Homo sapiens: one gene and its partners. The protein of the gene in region 1 purifies or fractionates together with the protein of each later gene. This does not show direct contact. Each region holds a gene or a part of one and is shown in the gene's direction. Other genes may lie near its edges.

Region 1 (4,897 bases):
TAGTCTAAGGAACTCAATTTGTCCTGGATGTTTCCTGATTCCTTTTCAAACTGCTGACAAATCATCCATCTGATTATCTGTTCTGGAAGTTTGCCTAGGACTAACATCAAGCCTGAGGAACTTTCCATTTTCTATCTGTGAGTGTTTGCATCCTTATTCATTTAGACTTTCAGTTTGCACAGCCTCTCTTGTTAGATTGTCAGTCCTTCAAAGACAGGGACCATGTTTAGTTTGTTCTTTTTTTTTTTTTTTTTTTTTTTCCATGATACCCAGGAAAATGTTCTGCTTAAAGTGGAGGTCTTTCCAGTGATTAACTGATTTGGCAAGTACAGCCTCCTAAGAGAATAAATTATCAGTTGGGATTATTATAATTTAATGACAATCACAAACACTCCCTTTCACAGGCCAGGCACTGTGGTTGGAGCTGTATGTCAATTATCTCCTTGATATGAAACCAACTAAGTGGCCATCGACCAACGAGTGGATAAAGAAAATGTGGTAGAAATACACCATGGAATACTACTCAGCCATAAAAAAATGAAATAATGTCTTTTGCAGCAACTTGGATGGAGCTGGAGGCCATTATTCCAAGTTAAGTAACTCAGGAATGGAAAACCAAATATCGTATGTTCTCACTTATACGTGGGAGCTGAGCTATGAGGACACAAAGACATACAGAATGATATAATGGACTTTAGAGGCTAGGGGTGGGGGAGGTTGGGAAGGAGGTGAGGGATAAAAGACTACATATTGGGTGCAGTGTACACTGCTCGGGTGACGAGTGCACTAAAATCTCAGAGTTCGCCACCATAGAGTCCATCCATGTAACCCAAAACCACTCGTACCCCAAAAGATTGAAATTTAAAAAAAATTTTTTTTAAAAGCATCTCCTTAATTCACAAATTCCTCTGAGGGTAGTACCACAAGTCCCATTTTACAGGTGAGGCCCCTGAGGCTTCAGCAAGTCTCAGGGACTCACCACAGTCACTCAGCTAGTAAGAAAAGGAACAAAGACTGGAATTTTACCTGACTCCAAGGTCCATGTTCTTAATCACCTGTGACAATCCCCTCTCATATATCCAGCAGCTGATGAAGTCTTTCTCTCAGGAAACCAACTGGACATAGACATGTCATGTCCATTTTATATGCAATATGGTGAATCAGGAGGAGCCGTGAAAGGACGACTCACTAAGTTACTCTCCCAATGTTTATGTTTGTTTAGACAGTGACCATCATGACCACTAGGGAAGATCACTTTCTGATTCTGCTGCCCTCACCTCCTGGACAAAAGCAGAGCAGAGAAGCAGCATAAACCCTGGTTGGGGGCCTAAGAATGATCCCCAACTCTCCACTGCAAACCACCGGGGTCAGGAAGCCTCCGGGTAATGCCCTCTCCCTCTTGTTTCGCTTTTTAAGTAGGTAAGCTGCACAGAGAGAAGCACTGTTGCATATTTCTGGACAGCTTATTTCTCTTGCAGAGGAAGACTGATATACACAACTAAAAGGCACTAACATGGGAGAAGATTTGAGAGATTAGAAGGATGGTGAAGGTGCGGTTGTCCAAAATCCCCCTCTGGGGGGAGATGATTGATATCTGGCTGTCATTCCAAGAAGCTTCTGGTTGACAAATACTGTCTGGTATTTCCTTGCTGATTTCTTACCCTCACACCGCAAGCCCTGATCTCTGTGGTCCACTGTGCAAATGCAAATTACCTGAATCAGGCTGCTGGTGACTCACCAGCTCCCCTTTAAAGCAACATCAGGTTCAACGCAGTGACTGCTCAGTAGAAGCCATGGCTCGCAGACACTGCTTCTCCTACTGGTTACTGGTATGCTGGTTGGTGGTAACTGTGGCAGAAGGTAAGGGTTTTGCTTTTATTCTACTGTGGGTCCACTAATTAATAAGTTGTAGGAAAAGACAAAACTGGCTCCATGATTATACGTTCCCATAAATTGGAAATATTTACCTCAGCTTCCATCAGCCTGTGTGGTTAAAGAGAAGGAAGTTGGATTTTGTCACCTGAAGACCTTGGTCCTCGTCTCAGCAATAGCTCTGTGACTTTAGACACACTTAAAATCTCTGAGTATCAGATTCCTCATATGTGAAGTGACAACATTAACAATATCCATCGTTATGGGGTTTGCAAGGACCAAATGAGCTATCATCTGTGAAAAACTCTTCAAGCTAAAAACACTGTACAAATACTAGTTATTATGGTTACAAAGCTAACAATTCCACTTTGAATTACAGCACTGTCCACTTTCTATCTCCAGCAGCATATTAATTTGCACATGGTGGGTATTTAGTCTTTGTTCATTGCTTTAATTAATCACATCTATTGAGCTGCATTTTGGTGCCACAGAGGTGGGCACAGGTTTCTTTCTTTAGGATTTTATTAGATTCCATTTCTCAACTGTTCCTATTCTCTTTCTTTGTTCCCACTACAAAATGTGTCCTGAGCCTTACAATTGGTTTGCAAACCCCTAGGAAAAGGAAAGAAAAGGCTGGGGAAGGGATGAAAAGAGGGAAATACAAGGGGAGGAAATCTTGGGGAGCCTAGATCTAACCTTTTCTTCAGTTTATTTTAATTCCAAAACTAGATGCTGTTTACGGAAGATGGACCTAGGAGTCAAACAGAGCACTTCACCCCTTTCACATGTCTTGGGTAGGGGGCTTTGCAGGGGCTCAGCCAAACCCTGCTCATCCCCAGACAGATTCCCCGTTCCCATCCCTCAGAGCTCACAATAGACAGGAGGAGGGGAGAGACATAAGAGCTGGTTGTGGAACACTCAGAAACCCCCTGATCCAACCTCTGCACACACTCTGGCAATCAGGGGACAGGGCATAGATTATGAACAAAACCTGCCCCCATATCCCAAGGCAAGGCCCCCAAGCCTCACCTACTAAAAGTGACATCTAAAAGAAGCATCATAAAACAAAACTAGCCACCTGCCACTTTCTCTGCAAAAAGTGAACCGCTCTTCAGGAGGCTTTGTAAACACATAGCTAAACAAGTTATAATGAGATTAGAGATTTATTTTATTCACATCTTAAAAACACCCACTGAGGCTGGGTACAGTGGCTCACACCTGTAATCCCAGCATTTTGGGAGGCCGAGGTGGGCAGATCACCTGAGGTCGGGAGTTCAAAACCAGCCTGACCAACATGGAGAAACCCCATCTCTACAAAAAATACAAAATTAGCCAGGTGTGGTGGTGCATGCCTGTAATCCCAGCTACTCGGGAGGCTGAGGCAGGAGAATCGCTTGAACCCAGGAGGTGGAGGTTGCCATGAGCCAAGATCGTGCCATTGCACTCCAGCCTGGGGAACAAGAGTGAAACTCTGTCTCAAAAAACAAAACACCCATTGAAACACCAGATTTGATTTCCGAATTTGGCTCACTTTTCCCTACAATCCCTCGAAGTCCTTCAAATGTAGCTTCATTCTATCCCAGCAGCCCCTGCTTCCAGTTCATCGCTCGTTCACACACACCCTGGGTCTGCCCGACAAGGTCATGTGTGGATCTCCATACTCATCCTCTTCTCACTGATGCACGGCAGCAACCACAGCTGCTCCCTCCACTTGCTTTCACCTCTGTTTGTTGCAGTTCCGCTTTAAGGCACAACATTTAAATGCCACTATGATTTTGCCTTGACAAAGTCTTTGTTAAGACATAATAATTTTAAAATTGCAGTTTCTCTTTCTGACACCTTTGAATTCTTACAGCTATTTGTGCATCACCTACGGCACGTATGGCATCTGCTCTCTGCTGCAGATCCCTGGCTTCATAGCATCTGCCCACTCCTTGAGCTCAGGCTCTTAATCTTAATCATCTCTGCGTTTGCCAGAGCCCCTAATGTAGTAACCTGTACCTGTTGAAACAACTTGACTCACAGCATAGAATTGAAAGGGGCCTGTCTGATACTTTCTGGGCTCTGATATTTTATCTGTGAAATTAGAGATTTGACCAAGATAGTCATTCTTTGAGTCTACAAAATAAATTGAGTTTTGCAGTTATTGTGAGTAAATCAATCATAGAACTTATTCTTTCTGGCTCAAGTCTGAAAGCACATGAGAATTAGTTTCTAAGACTCCATGCACCATGTAAGGGAAGAACTGCACACTTAAACTTTAAGTAGAAAGCTGACTTCTCTTAAAATCAGTATAGTTCACTGCAAGCCAGCTTTGTCTGCCCAAATAACCACAGAGTATAGGTAATTATAAAAAAAAAAAAAGGTCTTTCATCATTACCTTTTTTTAAAAAAGTACTTGTTTTTAAAGTAGTTGTTGGTATGCTGTGAATTTCATGTCTAGACTATAATAAACCACCTTAAAACTGATATTCAAATTCCAAGCAATATTTTGCCTTGTTTTTTCTATTATACTCTAATTTTTTTGTTTGTTTGTTTGTATGTTTGTTTGAGACAGGGTCTCCCTCTGTCGCCCAGGCTGGAGTGTGCAGTGGCACTATCTCAGCTCACTGCAACCTCCGCCTCCTGGGTTCAGATGATTCTCCTGCCTCAGCCTCCAGAGTAGCTGGGATTACAAGTGTCTGCCACCATGCCCGGCTAATTTTTGTGTTTTTAGTAGAGACGAGGTTTCACCATGTTGGCCAGGCTGGTCTTGAACTCCTGAGCTTAAGTAATCTGCCTGGCTCAGCCTCCCAAAGTGCTGGGATTATAAGTGTAAGCCACCACGCCCAGCCAATTTTTAATATAATTTATTATTGCAGATTTTCTGCGACTGAAATTAAATACTCACTGAACTCCACAAAATATACAGAGAGGAACATTCAAGGTCGGCCTGACCATTTAACTCATCAAGTATTTACTGAGCACCACTATAAGCCAGGGACTATTCTAGGTGCTGGAGACACCGGCAGTGACCAAGAGTCAA
Region 2 (4,404 bases), about 49 Mb from region 1:
TAGTCAGAAGTTATAATTTTTAAAAGTAATTATTTTCAGTACTGTAACTCAAGATATTTAAGTTGTTGATTAATAGATATTCTTAGTTCTGTTTTAATGAACAGATAACTATTATAACCATCATTGGTAAAGAACATGGTAATTTCTTCTATCTAAAATCCATATTATTAAGTATTTAGATTGGGGGGAGATTTATTCTCTAAATTATAAATTCTCTGTAAGTTTTCTTTATGAAATTCTATACTTTCTTATAGAATTAATCCTATGTCCCTACTCCCTCCTCTTCATTCCCCTGTCAAACACTTGAGTTTTCTTTCACAGCTTTCTATTCTTGTTCCTATCTTAATGAAAAGAGCAAACTTCAAAGTCAAACAAAACAATCAAAATTTATCACTTTCTAGCTGTGTTACTGTGAGCAATTTATTTAGCCTTTCTGAGCTTTAGGTTCCTCATTTTTTAAAATAGAAATATTTATCTCCCAGGCTTAACAGACAAGGAAGTTTTATAAATAATGAATACTTAAACTACTACCTTAGTTGACTCTCAATAAATGTAGCTCTCCTTTATTCCTTTCTGTAGAACCCTACCTGTTACTGTGGAGTTTCTGTCTTAATAATCTCAAGTTCCAATCATGACATCTTAGTTAATTAGGTTTAAATTTTAGATATTTATTCATAATGTATTATCTTTCATGTAAATCAAGTAGTGTAATATAAAGTCTTACATTAAAGTAATGTAAAGTATTACATTGCTTCAGAAACTTTAAAACACTATATAATGTAAAATAATATTATTTCTTAAGTAACTTATTTTATTAGCAATGTACTAGGTATTTCCCTTATCTAACTTAAATTTTAAAGTGAATTGATAAAGTCAAAAGCAAATGGACACACAGAAAAAGATTTGGAGGCAAATCATCTCACATCATTGGTAAATATAGATTGCTGTAAATTTCTAGGTATGTTTTAAACCCTCCTTAGGTGAGCAGTGACTTTTTCACAATTGAAATTTATCTTTTGAAATTATTTCTGTTGAGGATTTAATAATCAATTGTGTGTGTATACATATATATGTAAAATTAGATTCTATTTTTATATAGATTTAGGGCTATATAAATCTATATACAAAGGGCTATATTAGTACAACTGTTATTCATATTTTATTCTTGGTAGGTTGTTTTTAATTTTTCAATAACTGTCCATTTTGTCTACATACTTAAAGCTTAGTATTACAAAATTGAGTTCATCAGCTTTTTCTCCAAACCTATTATTTGTCCTTCACTGGTCTCTTTTTCAGTCCTGTTGGCAGAGCCACAAGTTAGTGTCAGCTTTGACTCGTCCTTCTCTCTTTACTTCTCCACATTCACCAAACACTGTATAATCTAGCTCTTATTAAAAATTCCCAAGTCCATCACGTTATTTTTGCTGCTGCTGCTGCTGCTGCAACTGCTGCCACCACCATGGCTGTTCAGGCTCATAGTGATTTTCATCTAGAGTGCATCACAGCCTCTTTAAAAATCGTTTTTCCTTTAGTCTTGACTTGCTCCAGTTCTTCTTTAGATGTTAGAATATTCCTTCAAAATGCAAATCTGGTCATGTTAGAGACTTGGTAAGTTCATTCACTTAGCAGTTTTTTGTTCTGTAAGATGAATACACAATTGTCTAATAAGTTCATATCTGTATATCATGATGTCATCTGCCTTTAGACAGTGAAATTATGGCTTCCTTTAAAGAACTTAAAATGAGTTTAAAATAGCTATAGCTAGTATATTTTTAGGTTGGTTTAAATCTTATTATTTATTTTACAGTGCTGAAGTTTTTTGACCATAATTTAGCCAAAAAGTTGGATCTTAATTGGTTCAAGCTATTTATTGATGGTCTGAGATTTAGTTATTTTAGTTTGATAAAATGTACAGTAATGTAGTTTAAAGACAATGACTGGATATTCTAATTGGATGTAAATATTCAGTCACATAATTAAGGCTAGTGTATATTCAAGTGTATAGGTGAAAATATATAAATTATTTATATGGAAGAGATTTTGTAAAAAGAAACCTTACTTGTTATGTCTCCTGCAACTTTTTTTCCCAATCACTTGGGAGTTCAGATGATGTTAACTGGGTACTTTTATGGTTATGTAAGACTGTCTGCTTCTTAATTAGTATCTATTACAATGGAGTTGAGAGAGGCACCAAGCTACTAAAGGAATAAGTAGTTCAATTTGTAGGTAGGAAAATGAAATTTTTCTGCCATCAGTGTGTTTTTGCAGAAAGAAAAGAAAACTGATTTACATACTAATAGGTATTAATTGATCTGCTTATTAGTATTAATTTATTAATTGATTTATTTATTATATGTTGACATTCTCTTTGAAGATATGGTACTTCTATAATCCTTTTCAACTGATTACATCTACTTTTTTATCTCTTCTTTAGGTTTTCGAAAAATAAGTTTAGATGACCTTCGGAAGGCATATATCGTCAAGGATGTTCAGCAGTACATTCTTCATCGTTTAGATCAAGAAGAAGCTTTGCGACAACACCTCACAAAAGAAACTGCAGAGATGTTAAATCAACTGCACATTAAAAGCAGTGGATGCTTTCTTTACCTAGAACGAGTTTTAGATGGAGTTGTAGAAAATTTTATTATGTTAAGAGAAATTCGTGACATCCCAGGAACTCTAAATGGTTTATATCTCTGGCTGTGCCAAAGACTTTTTGTAAGAAAACAATTTGCAAAGGTTCAGCCTATTTTGAATGTGATTCTTGCAGCCTGCCGACCTTTGACCATAACGGAATTATATCACGCAGTATGGACCAAAAACATGTCGTTAACTTTGGAAGATTTTCAACGCAAGTTAGATATCCTCTCCAAACTTCTTGTTGATGGACTAGGAAATACAAAAATACTGTTTCATTATAGTTTTGCCGAGTGGCTTCTGGATGTGAAACACTGTACTCAGAAGTATTTATGTAATGCAGCAGAAGGACACAGAATGTTGGCTATGAGTTATACCTGTCAAGCCAAGAATTTAACACCATTGGAAGCACAAGAATTTGCATTGCACTTAATTAACTCAAACTTACAATTAGAGACAGCGGAGTTAGCTCTGTGGATGATATGGAATGGTACACCTGTCAGAGATTCCCTTTCTACTTTGATACCCAAGGAACAAGAAGTGCTACAGCTGTTGGTTAAAGCTGGGGCTCATGTCAACAGTGAAGACGATCGCACATCATGCATAGTTCGACAAGCCTTAGAAAGAGAGGATTCCATTCGGACATTATTAGATAATGGAGCTTCAGTAAATCAGTGTGATTCAAATGGGAGAACATTATTGGCTAATGCTGCATATAGTGGCAGTCTTGATGTAGTCAATTTACTTGTCTCTAGGGGAGCAGATTTAGAGATAGAAGATGCTCATGGACATACACCACTCACTCTAGCGGCTAGACAGGGACATACCAAGGTGGTTAATTGTTTGATTGGGTGTGGAGCAAATATTAATCATACTGATCAAGATGGTTGGACAGCATTAAGATCTGCTGCTTGGGGTGGCCATACTGAGGTAGTTTCTGCACTACTTTATGCTGGCGTAAAAGTGGATTGTGCAGATGCTGATAGCCGAACAGCTTTGAGAGCAGCAGCATGGGGAGGACACGAGGATATTGTACTGAATTTGCTACAACATGGCGCTGAAGTGAACAAAGCTGATAATGAAGGTAGAACTGCTTTGATAGCAGCAGCATACATGGGACATAGAGAGATTGTGGAACACCTACTGGACCATGGAGCAGAAGTAAATCATGAGGATGTTGATGGCAGGACTGCACTCTCTGTAGCTGCACTTTGTGTGCCTGCAAGTAAAGGGCACGCATCAGTTGTTAGCCTTTTAATTGATCGAGGTGCTGAAGTAGATCATTGTGATAAAGATGGCATGACTCCACTGCTGGTAGCTGCCTATGAAGGACATGTTGATGTGGTTGACTTGCTTCTAGAAGGGGGAGCAGATGTAGATCACACAGATAACAATGGCCGTACACCCCTCTTAGCAGCAGCGTCTATGGGTCATGCATCAGTTGTAAATACACTTTTGTTTTGGGGTGCAGCTGTGGATAGTATTGATAGTGAAGGTAGGACAGTCCTCAGTATAGCTTCAGCACAAGGAAATGTTGAGGTGGTACGTACTCTACTGGATAGAGGGTTAGATGAAAATCACAGAGATGATGCTGGATGGACACCTTTGCACATGGCAGCTTTTGAAGGGCACAGATTGATATGTGAAGCACTTATTGAACAAGGTGCTAGAACAAATGAGATTGACAATGATGGACGAATCCCTTTCATATTAGCTTCACAAGAGGGTCATTATGATTGTGTTCAAATATTACTGGAAAACAAATCC
Region 3 (4,404 bases), about 27 Mb from region 1:
AAAACCCTTCACATCTTGTTGATTCAATTTCTTCTCAGTAAAATGATACCAGTCTCTCTTCTTACAGGATTTCTATGAGTAGGAAATAAAATAACTAGATGAAAGCAAATCACATATGCTATAATGTGCCCCTTAAATGCAAGGTTATTTATAATTGTGAGAGGCTGGAAATAGTCCAAACTTTATAAAAAGAAATGGTTAAAAATGGCATGTTATAGTGAAAATCAGTAAAACTATTCAGAATGCGCATGTGGAAAGCAAATTTGTTTTAAAAAACAAATTTAAGTAAAAAGAAAGGCTAGAAACTCAAAGTCTTAGGTGGCTATAGTTTGGAGGACACTAATAACACTGAAAATAGGTCACATTTACAGAAAAATTACAACGCACCAGGTACTGTGCCTTCCGTGGATTATTTTTTAAATTCTCACAACAGCCTGTGACATTACTGCTGTTATTTTCATTCTACATATGAAGAAATGAAGACTGAGAAGTTACTTAGTCACATAGCTAGTATTTTGCAGGACTGGGATTAAAACTCAGGTTTCATAGTCTCTTAACCATTTCTGCTAACCTGACTTTCAGCAATTATTACTACTATTGTTCCTTAAAAACATAGCAACCAAGAATGCCTGTTTTTATTCTGTTTTATTTCTCCCCAGGTGAGAGTCCATACATGGAGCTCCCTGGAGCCCGTGTGCTCTCGTGTGACTGAACGTTTTGTGATGAAAGGAGGAGAGGCTGTCTGCCTTTATGAGGAGCCAGTGTCTGAATTGCTGAGGAGATGTGGGAATTGCACACGGGAAAGCTGTGTGGTTTCCTTTTACCTTTCAGCTGACCATGAACTCCTGAGCCCGACCAACTACCACTTCTTGTCCTCACCGAAGGAGGCCGTGGGGCTCTGCAAGGCGCAGATCACTGTAAGCACAGGTCATGGCGGAGGGCAGGGGACTGTGGCCTTGTGGGGTTCTCCTGCTCTTGGGCCAGCTCCTTGCATCCTGAGATTTGCATGTGTCCCCCTTGGTGCTGAGTTTACCTGAGGCCTGGGGGAAGATTGGCCTCTTCCCACTAAAAGCAAACACCAAATGATTTCTATTTCGAATCCAGGATTTGTCAGAGTTGCTGGTGACCACTACTCGTTTGTCCCATCACCCCTCCTTAGTGGGCAGGTGCAGTGATGGGAGAGGAAGCTCGAGTCATCACCACTGCCTGCATGCCCACTAGGTTCCAGGCTGTGTTCTAGGTGCTTCACCTCATAGTCTCTGACTTTCACCACAGCTCCAGGCATTATCATCTGCATTTTGTAAGTTTGGAAGCCAGTTTAGGAGGTTAAGTGATGAGCTCGAGGTCCTGTAGCTGGGAAGCATTGGAGCCCAGCTGACGCAGTCTAATTTTAAGTAGAGTCTATTAATATTCACTCTAGTCTCTTTGATTTATTGCTTCAAAGTAGCTCAATCACCAAATCTTTTTATAATTGCCAAGATATAAAAATGGGATGATCAGGATGTGTTGTTATAAAAATTGTGCAGCTGGAGAATTTGGAATTTGTCTAGTAGGTTGAAAACCTTTCCTTCCTTCTCCCCTACACATAGCAGTTGGAAATATATGTACACATATATGTTTTTAATTTTATTATCTTATCTTCTGGACACTCAGGAAATATCTTTCTAGAAAGTTACATTCTCTGTTTTTAGAAAATTTTAAATTTGTTTTACACTTTTACTTCATAGAAAGGGATTTTCTACATTTAATTTAGAAATAATCATATAAAAACACCTAATTCTTGTGTTTTATTTGAAAGAGCCTAACAACTGAAAACATACCTTCTTTCTATAGTCACATAATAAAATCCAAGTTATCTGTAACAACTAATAGAGAACAGAAGAAAATGACAGTCTTACATATATTTTTTTCCAAAAAAGAAAAAAAAAACCACTATGTACTGGATGAATTTTCAGTCTCTAAACTTATGATTTTGAAAACCAAATTTTTTTCTTTCCTGAGTTAGGCCTTCATTACCTTGAGGTGGGTAATTGGGGTGGGAGAAAAGCAGGGCTCTTTCTTTGTTCTATCTCATTTTGATTTCAGTGAGACTTGTCCTTCTTAAAGAGATAAAATGATAGTAATAATACTGTTAGTTAATGTTTAATTCGGGGCTAATATAGACTAGGTATTTGGCTTCTTTTCTCAAGGGAGATGCCAGAAACTTGTTCTCCCTGTCTCCCTGAAGCCAGGGTGCAAGCTTGAATCCCAGGCTCTGCAGTCAGACATACAGAGAGGAGATTTCCAATCCAACGAAGATAACCAGCATAAGCATGACACCAGCATCTCTTTCGGCCTTGGTCTTGGAGCAGCAGAAGCTGATGCTACCCTGGCAGCTTCCTGGGCAGGCTGGCATGAGCCGCATGAACCTTGTTCCTGTGGCTGCTTTAGGACCTTCACTGGAACAGCTGGGCGGTGCGATCTGGGAATTTGCCATCCAAATTCAAGCCTGAGTCTCTGATCCTGAAGAGCAACCTGATACGCTTTATTAAGCTTCTTTTCTGCTTCTATCAATATAGGTTTCCTTGTGTATAACTCAGAACCCTGAATGATAACATATTACACAAATATGTAAGGCTAAATTATATATAGTGAAAATGGCCCTTTGAAATTCTTTATGTCACACATAACATATAATGTAAGACTGAGATGTTGCATGACAAATGCACAGATTAAGAAACCAGGTTGCACTCAGCTCCGTGCTCACACAAAGAGAGGTTTGCAAACCCTCCCACTCTGGGGAGCAGCGCATCCTCACTCTGGGCATATGCTATTCGGCTACTTAAGAGGAATGGAGCCAACACGATTTAAATTGCACTGTCTCTTTTTGCTGCTATTTTGTGGAATTCACACATGTAAAAAAAATGCTAATAATGTGACTTTACTTAACTATGCAGTAAAAGAGATAAGCTCTAATGGTAGAGCTTTTGTAAATTTCTGGCAGTGGACTTTCTAGATTGCTGGATCTTTTCAGGAGACTTGAATGTAAGCTCCACAGTTGGGCTCTGTAGCTAGGTCCAGATATATCCTTAGAAAGTCATTAAAACCACCCAGGCTGTATGTAAAAATGTTGCTCTCTTGATGATACTCTGAGAAAAACTGTAAAAGATGTAAAGCTTTGAGCTTCTTGTGAAATATTCTCCTTAATGATTGGAGACGATGTATTTCCTTGATTTGTGATTATAATTTGGTAACGTTCCATAGCCTGTAGTCATTTTCCATGTATTGTTTTGTGTTTGAAACTGCACTTTAGCAGTTGTAGAACCAAAGTTGTGGGAAGTGGACTCCTTGTTAAGCCCACATAAATGTTTACAGGAACTGTATACAGACTATATAACTCTTCCCTCATCCTTCACTTCATTCATTTTTTTTTTTCTTTTTCAGGCCATCATCTCTCAGCAAGGTGACATATTTGTTTTTGACCTGGAGACCTCAGCTGTCGCTCCCTTTGTTTGGTTGGATGTAGGAAGCATCCCAGGGAGATTTAGTGACAATGGTTTCCTCATGACTGAGAAGACACGAACTATATTATTTTACCCTTGGGAGCCCACCAGCAAGAATGAGTTGGAGCAATCTTTTCATGTGACCTCCTTAACAGATATTTACTGAAGGAATCTAGGTTGTATTTTCAGTGGACAATGGGAATAAAGCATTTCTAAAGCACCGACTGGAGAGGAAGGCAACAGAGACAAGGAGAGAAGCCGAGAGACATGTCTGCGTGCTGCCACGCATTTGAGCGATTGCTCTGTGAAGAGTTGTACACTGAACACTTTCAGGGGAGGCTGTTTACCCAGGCAATGTCCTCAAACAAGCCTGTGCCGGGGTGTCCTGGAATCTGTGCCAGGACTGTGTTTTTAGCCCTTCACCTCTCAGCTTTAGCAGGACATGAACCAGTTATAACAAGATGGCCCTGCAGCTGGTTACAAGAATGTGACATGGCAGGATCTATGGAACCAAATGGAAGGTTTTGAGGTGATGTAGGTCTTTCACAGCTAGCTTTGGGGAATACGGAATACTCAAATAAAGTGCTTTGTTATTATTTCAGAGGGAATGGCGATTGAAATGTTACAACAGAGATTTCTTGGTGGTAGCTATTTGGGTAAAGGTATATGGGTATTTTTCTGTACATGTGAAATTATATAAAAATAAAAGTTATATAAATTACATTGACAACTTGATATTTCATCTGTGGCTTATTTAACCGTTCTATAAATATTCAATTTTGCCCAATACTGTGCTGGACCCTAATTTCCATTTAGTTCTCGTTATTATTCTGCTTGGTAAACTGGGAGAGTTTGAAGAATCTAAACTAAGACATGTGAAAGGTTTTCTCTGGAAACAGTCATGTAATTGGTTATAGAATGG
Region 4 (5,093 bases), on another chromosome or scaffold:
TGGGAGAAGCATCTCTGCTCTGGGATGGGTTGGCCACAGCCTTCTAAAAGTCCCCCTCCTGGGACCCTGGAGTGGAGTCCCCTCACTCCTGACCCCCTCCTTCCTTCCTTGGCTTCTCTCCCTCAGCAGTGTCTTCCATTTGCCCAGCTTTTACCATCACCCCTACACATTGACTTTTTTCTGCCCCACTGCAAGGCAGAGGGTGAGCGTTCAGATTCCACCTGCTGGCTACCCCTACCCCTGGCTGGCATGTTCAACTCGACTTAACTGTAGCAAAATGTGCTCTCCCTACTGTCCATCCTCTCCCCTGTCGGGAACCTGCAGAGGGACCTACCTTGGCTCCCCTTTGCCCATCAAGCCTGGCGTTCCTTTTAGGTGTAGTTTACCTGTTGATCACAGTTCTTTGTGCTCCAATGTGCCCCTGGCTGTGTGTAACACACACACATGCACACACACACACACACTCATGGGCCAACTTGAGCTGTGTTTAGGAAGAGGCTCTGAGCTCTGTGACCCTGTGACCCTTCGACCCTTCCCCCAGCCAAAGCTGAAGGACCTCCTTAGTCTTTTCTGCTGAGGAAACATCGGGCTGTCCAGGCCAGGGCCCCCATTGGTCTGGACAGGAAAGAAAACACCCTGTCCAAACAGAGGCATCCTGAGCGGCTGCCTGGATGGCTGTGCTGATTAGCAGGATTCCGAAGGGAGGCCCACCCCTGTTGGAGGACCACTCAGAAGCCTGATTGCCCCTGCAGGCTGCAGAGGTATCCCACCCTGTGTCTCCCCTCCCAGCCAGGGCCACTCATTCAAGCCCCATGTGCTGGGGATAGCACCTGCTATGTGCCTGACAGTGAGTTGGGAATCTGGCCAGTGTTTCATGATGGCCAAACTCAGGGGCATGAGGACATCAGCAACCCCTTGCTTTTTTTTTTTTTTTTTTTTTGAGACGGAGTTTTGCTCTTGTTGCCCAGGCTGGAGCACAATGGCATGATCTCAGCTCACTGCAACCTCCGCCTCCTGGGTTCAAGCAATTCTCCTGCCTCAGCCTCCCAAGTAGCTGGGATTACAGGCATGCTCCACCACGCCCAGCTAATTTTGTATTTTTAGTAGGGACAGGGTTTCACCATGTTGCCCAGGCTGGTCTTGAACTCCTGACCTCAGGTGATCCACCGGCCTCCACCTCCCAAAGTGCTGGGGTTACAAGCATGAGCCACTCACTGCACCTGGCCTCACCCCCTTGCTTTCTATTTGGAAAAGAAAGTAATACAGAAGTCTCACCCCTTCCACAATCAAAGGTGGGGAGCAGCCTTAGCCCCTAGCAGAATGCTGGACAGGGGCTTCCCCTGCTTACTCCCACTGTTTTTGGTATACCAGGCTTTCTAAGGGGATCCCCCCTCCCCAAACTCTCCTATTCCACCCCTACTCTCCTTTCCCAAGACGTGAGGGCCTCAACTCTTGCACACCCTCTTTGCGGTGGTTCCCAGCGAGTCTGGAGACCGCTCAAGCCTGCAGCAGCTCCTCCCTTCGAGCCCAGCCCTTGGGAGGGAAAGGTGCGCGTGTTCCTTTAAGGGGCTGGTCTGGCGGGAGCGCGGGGGTTTTTCTGCTGCCGCTTCCTTTCTGCCCTTTTAATTTCCCCGAAATCAGACTGCTGCCTTGGACCGGGACAGCTCGCGGCCCCCGAGAGCTCTAGCCGTCGAGGAGCTGCCTGGGGACGGTACGTGGCTTAGGGGTCGCTGGGCTTCTGGGGCTGTGTGCGGGCCGGGTTCCTCCCTTACCGCTTTGGGTGCCCTGCGGGTCCCCACACCTCCCGGGCAGGGTCCGGGGAAGGGGCAGGAGGCGTGGGCCGGGCACTGCGGAGGCCCGGGCTGAGATGGGCTGTGATCGCGGGCGAGGGGCGCCCGGGGCACAAGTGGGGAGGGAGCGGCGCGGGGATGCGGGCGCCGGACCCTCGTGCCCACCGTGAGGGAGCAGAGCCCGAGCGGACCCCGTGGCCTCCGAGACCACCGTCCGCCTCCAGCCCCCTTCCTGCCAGGGTCCGCTTGGCTCTCTCCCCTGTCGTCTGTCCAGGGTCGGCTGCCTCCAGTGCCGTCCGCGGCGCCCCAGGCCCTGCCCCTGGGTATCTGTTGGATGCTCCGGGGGCCCCGGGAGTCCTGGGAGGGGCTGAGGGCAACCTGCGAGGCGGCTGGCGGACCTGCGCCTCTGGACCGCAGCTGGCCGGCTCTGGGCGCCTGGGGCAAAGGCAACTGATGCCTATGGGTTCCAGACCTCGCTCACCGGGGTTCTTGCCCCAGGGACAGCGAGGCCAGAAGGGTAGGGAGGGTGGAGGGCAGAGCCCTGGGTGGGAGATGGCGACCCTCAGGGAGAAACGTAGGCTTGTGCGCAGCCAGTATGGAAACAGCACGGCACTTGGACCCAGTCCTGCCACCAGCTCGTTGGCAGCCACAGGCCACAGGCAGCCTGTAAACCTGTTGGGACCTTGGTGTCCAGCGCTGACCCGCGGGAGTGCCTGTGCTCCCTGGAGTAGGGGGCAGCGATTGAGAGGGGCCCTGGCTTCTCTCCCTCGACGCCGCCCGGGCCAGCGGATTGGGAAACACCTCCGGTTTTCATTCTCCTGGGGGCTGCAGGTTTCAAAGGCGGAGATCAAGCCTTGTGCAAACAGGGACAGGGATGTCAAATTTCTCGCTGGGAGCAGCGCTCGTGCAGACCTCGCGGGCGATGCTGCCTCCTGCTGGTACCTGGGGGACTTGTACTCACGGAAGGCCCAGTGCGGACATGCACCTGGCAGGGAGGTGGCACCTACCCTCCCTCCAAGCCCAGGCTTATTGTTCTTGGGTGGAGGGGTCCCTAGGCTGGGGCGCCTGGGAAAAGCAAAGGGCTGGTCATCAGGAAACCTGAACTTTCTCTAAGTTCGAGATATTTGACAAAGATAACGCCTTGGGTAGTTCACTGACCTCCACTCTCTTGGCCTCAGTTTCCTCAACTGTGAAGAGGAGGCAGTGGTGACCACTTTGTCTCGTAGGCAGTGAGAGAGGAGAAAGAGCCACTGAGATGGTGTAAGACTTCACTGTGTGAACTGCTCACCAGAGTAGTAACAGGTCATATTTTCCCAGTGCTTGCTCCTTATCAAGCATCAAGCAGTATTTTCAGTGCTCTGCAGCTATTCTCTCCCTTAATCTTCACGAGAGTGTTTTCTGTTTGGTATTGTCGTGACCGCCCCCCCCACCCCAACTTTTTTTTTTTTTTTGAGATGGAGTCTCACTCTTCTTGCCCAGACTGGAGTGCAATGGCTCAATCTCGGCTCACTGCAACCTCCGCCTCCTGGGTTCAAGCGATTCTTCTGCTTCAGCCTCCCGAGTAGCTGGGACTACAAGCGCTCATCACCACACTCGGCTAATTTTTGTATTTTTAGTAGAGATGGGGTTTCACCGTGTTGGCCAGGCTAGTCTTGAACTCTTGACCTCAGGTGATCTGCCCACCTCAGCCTCCCAAAGTGCAGGGATAACAGGCATGAGGCACTGTGCCTGGCTTGTGACCCCCATTTTAAAGATGAAGAAACTGAGGCTCAGAGAGGTGCAGCGACTTGTCCAATGACAGAGGGTTAGTAAGTGGGTGGAGCCAGAACTGAATGCAGGCAGCCAATCTGCTTCTAGAGCCTGAAATCTTTGCCATGTTCATTTGTTGAGCACCTGCTGCATGCCAGGGACCAGACATCATACATCTTCTATAATTGTCACCACAGCCCATTTTTTTTTTTTGAGCTGGAGTCTTGCTCTGTCGGCCAGTCTGGAGTGCAGTGGTGTGGTCTTGGCTCACTGCAACTTCCGCCTCCTGGGTTCAAACAATTCTCCTGCCTTAGCCACCCCAGTAGCTGGGATTACAGGCATCTGCCACCACACCCAGCTAAATTTTGTATTTTCATTAGAGATGGGGGTTTCACTGTGTTGGCCAGGCCAGTCTCGAACTCCTGACCTCAGGTGATCCACCCCCTCAGCTTCCCCAAATGCTGTAGGATTACAGGTGTGAGCCACTGCACCCGGCCTTAAGTTCCTTTTTTTTACAGATGAGGAAATGGAGGCACAGAGAGGTGAACTTGCCCGAAGTCACTCAGCAGGATGCAGTGTGTCCAGCTCCAATACCGAGCCCAGGTCTGAGTGCCCAGACAGGACTCCAGAAGATTTGGGGAACTATCCACTGCCAAGGTGACTGGGCTGGACTTGGTCTTGGGCCTTCCAGCTGGTGGCACCTCTGTGGTGGTCCTGAGGAGTTGGTGGCTGGATAGCCATGGTAGGGGAGCAGAGGCTACCCATCCCTCCCCTCAGTGGTAGTGGTCAGGGATGGTCAGAGATGGACCTGAGGCAAGGCAGCAACCAAGTGGCAATTGCCACTCCTGACTCCCACACAGGACTCTGTCCTGTGCACTGACCTTAGCATTCAAGGCTGTGCTTGTCCTCAGCCCCCGAGTTCCCCTTTAGTCTTCTCTGGAGAGAGGAAATTTTCTGTTCAGAGAGGTCAAATGACTTTCCCAGGGTCACCCAGCTAGCAGGTGGCAGAGCCAAGACCCAACCTCAATGAGTTTAACTTGAAACCTTGGGCCTGTGTGCTGCTCCTCTCTCAGAGAGGCCTGGAAAATGGCCAGCTTCCTCCTGGCCTTTTGTTCTTGGGCACAGGGCTGATCTTTTCTTATAATTCCTTTTGTTTTTCTTTTCTTTTTTTTTTGAGATGCAGTTTCACTCTGTCGCCCAGGCTGGAGTGCAAAGGTGTGATCTCGGCTCACTGCAACCTCTGCCTCCCAGGTTCAAGCAATTCTCCTGCCTCAGCCTCTGGAGTAGCTGGGATTACAGGCACCCACCACCACACCCATCTATTTTTTATATTTTTAGTAGAGACGGGGTTTTACCATGTTGGCCAAGCTGGTCTCAAACTCCTGACCTCAGGTGATCTACCCTCCTTGGCCTCCAAAGTGCTGGGATAACAGGTGTAAGCCACTGTGCCCAGCTAATTCCTTTTGATTTTCTTGGCATCCCCCTCAATGTGAGGTTACATTACTGCTGAGTTAGCATCCAACAAAGAGGTGTTACTGATGTCACTTAGTGGCA

The links.
Region 2: the proteins of ODAPH (region 1) and ANKRD50 purify together in Homo sapiens (affinity purification with mass spectrometry; 2 studies listed by BioGRID and IntAct, with this or other methods). This does not show direct contact.
Region 3: the proteins of ODAPH (region 1) and MANBA purify together in Homo sapiens (affinity purification with mass spectrometry; 2 studies listed by BioGRID and IntAct, with this or other methods). This does not show direct contact.
Region 4: the proteins of ODAPH (region 1) and HAPLN3 purify together in Homo sapiens (affinity purification with mass spectrometry; 2 studies listed by BioGRID and IntAct, with this or other methods). This does not show direct contact.

The regions. Positions count from the first base shown.
Region 1 is NC_000004.12:75,554,290-75,559,186, forward strand, and holds the start of ODAPH (odontogenesis associated phosphoprotein isoform 2 precursor), read left to right. Parts: upstream 1-1,776; 5' UTR 1,777-1,793; coding exon 1,794-1,860; intron 1,861-2,251; coding exon of another isoform or gene 2,252-2,295; intron 2,296-4,897. UniProt on the Homo sapiens protein: May promote nucleation of hydroxyapatite.
Region 2 is NC_000004.12:124,670,565-124,674,968, reverse strand, and holds part of ANKRD50 (ankyrin repeat domain-containing protein 50), read left to right. Parts: intron 1-2,434; coding exon 2,435-4,404.
Region 3 is NC_000004.12:102,631,301-102,635,704, reverse strand, and holds part of MANBA (beta-mannosidase precursor), read left to right. Parts: intron 1-659; coding exon 660-917; intron 918-3,423; coding exon 3,424-3,648; 3' UTR 3,649-4,404.
Region 4 is NC_000015.10:88,892,077-88,897,169, reverse strand, and holds the start of HAPLN3 (hyaluronan and proteoglycan link protein 3 isoform 2 precursor), read left to right. Parts: upstream 1-1,625; 5' UTR 1,626-1,711; intron 1,712-4,057; coding exon of another isoform or gene 4,058-4,196; intron 4,197-5,093. UniProt on the Homo sapiens protein: May function in hyaluronic acid binding.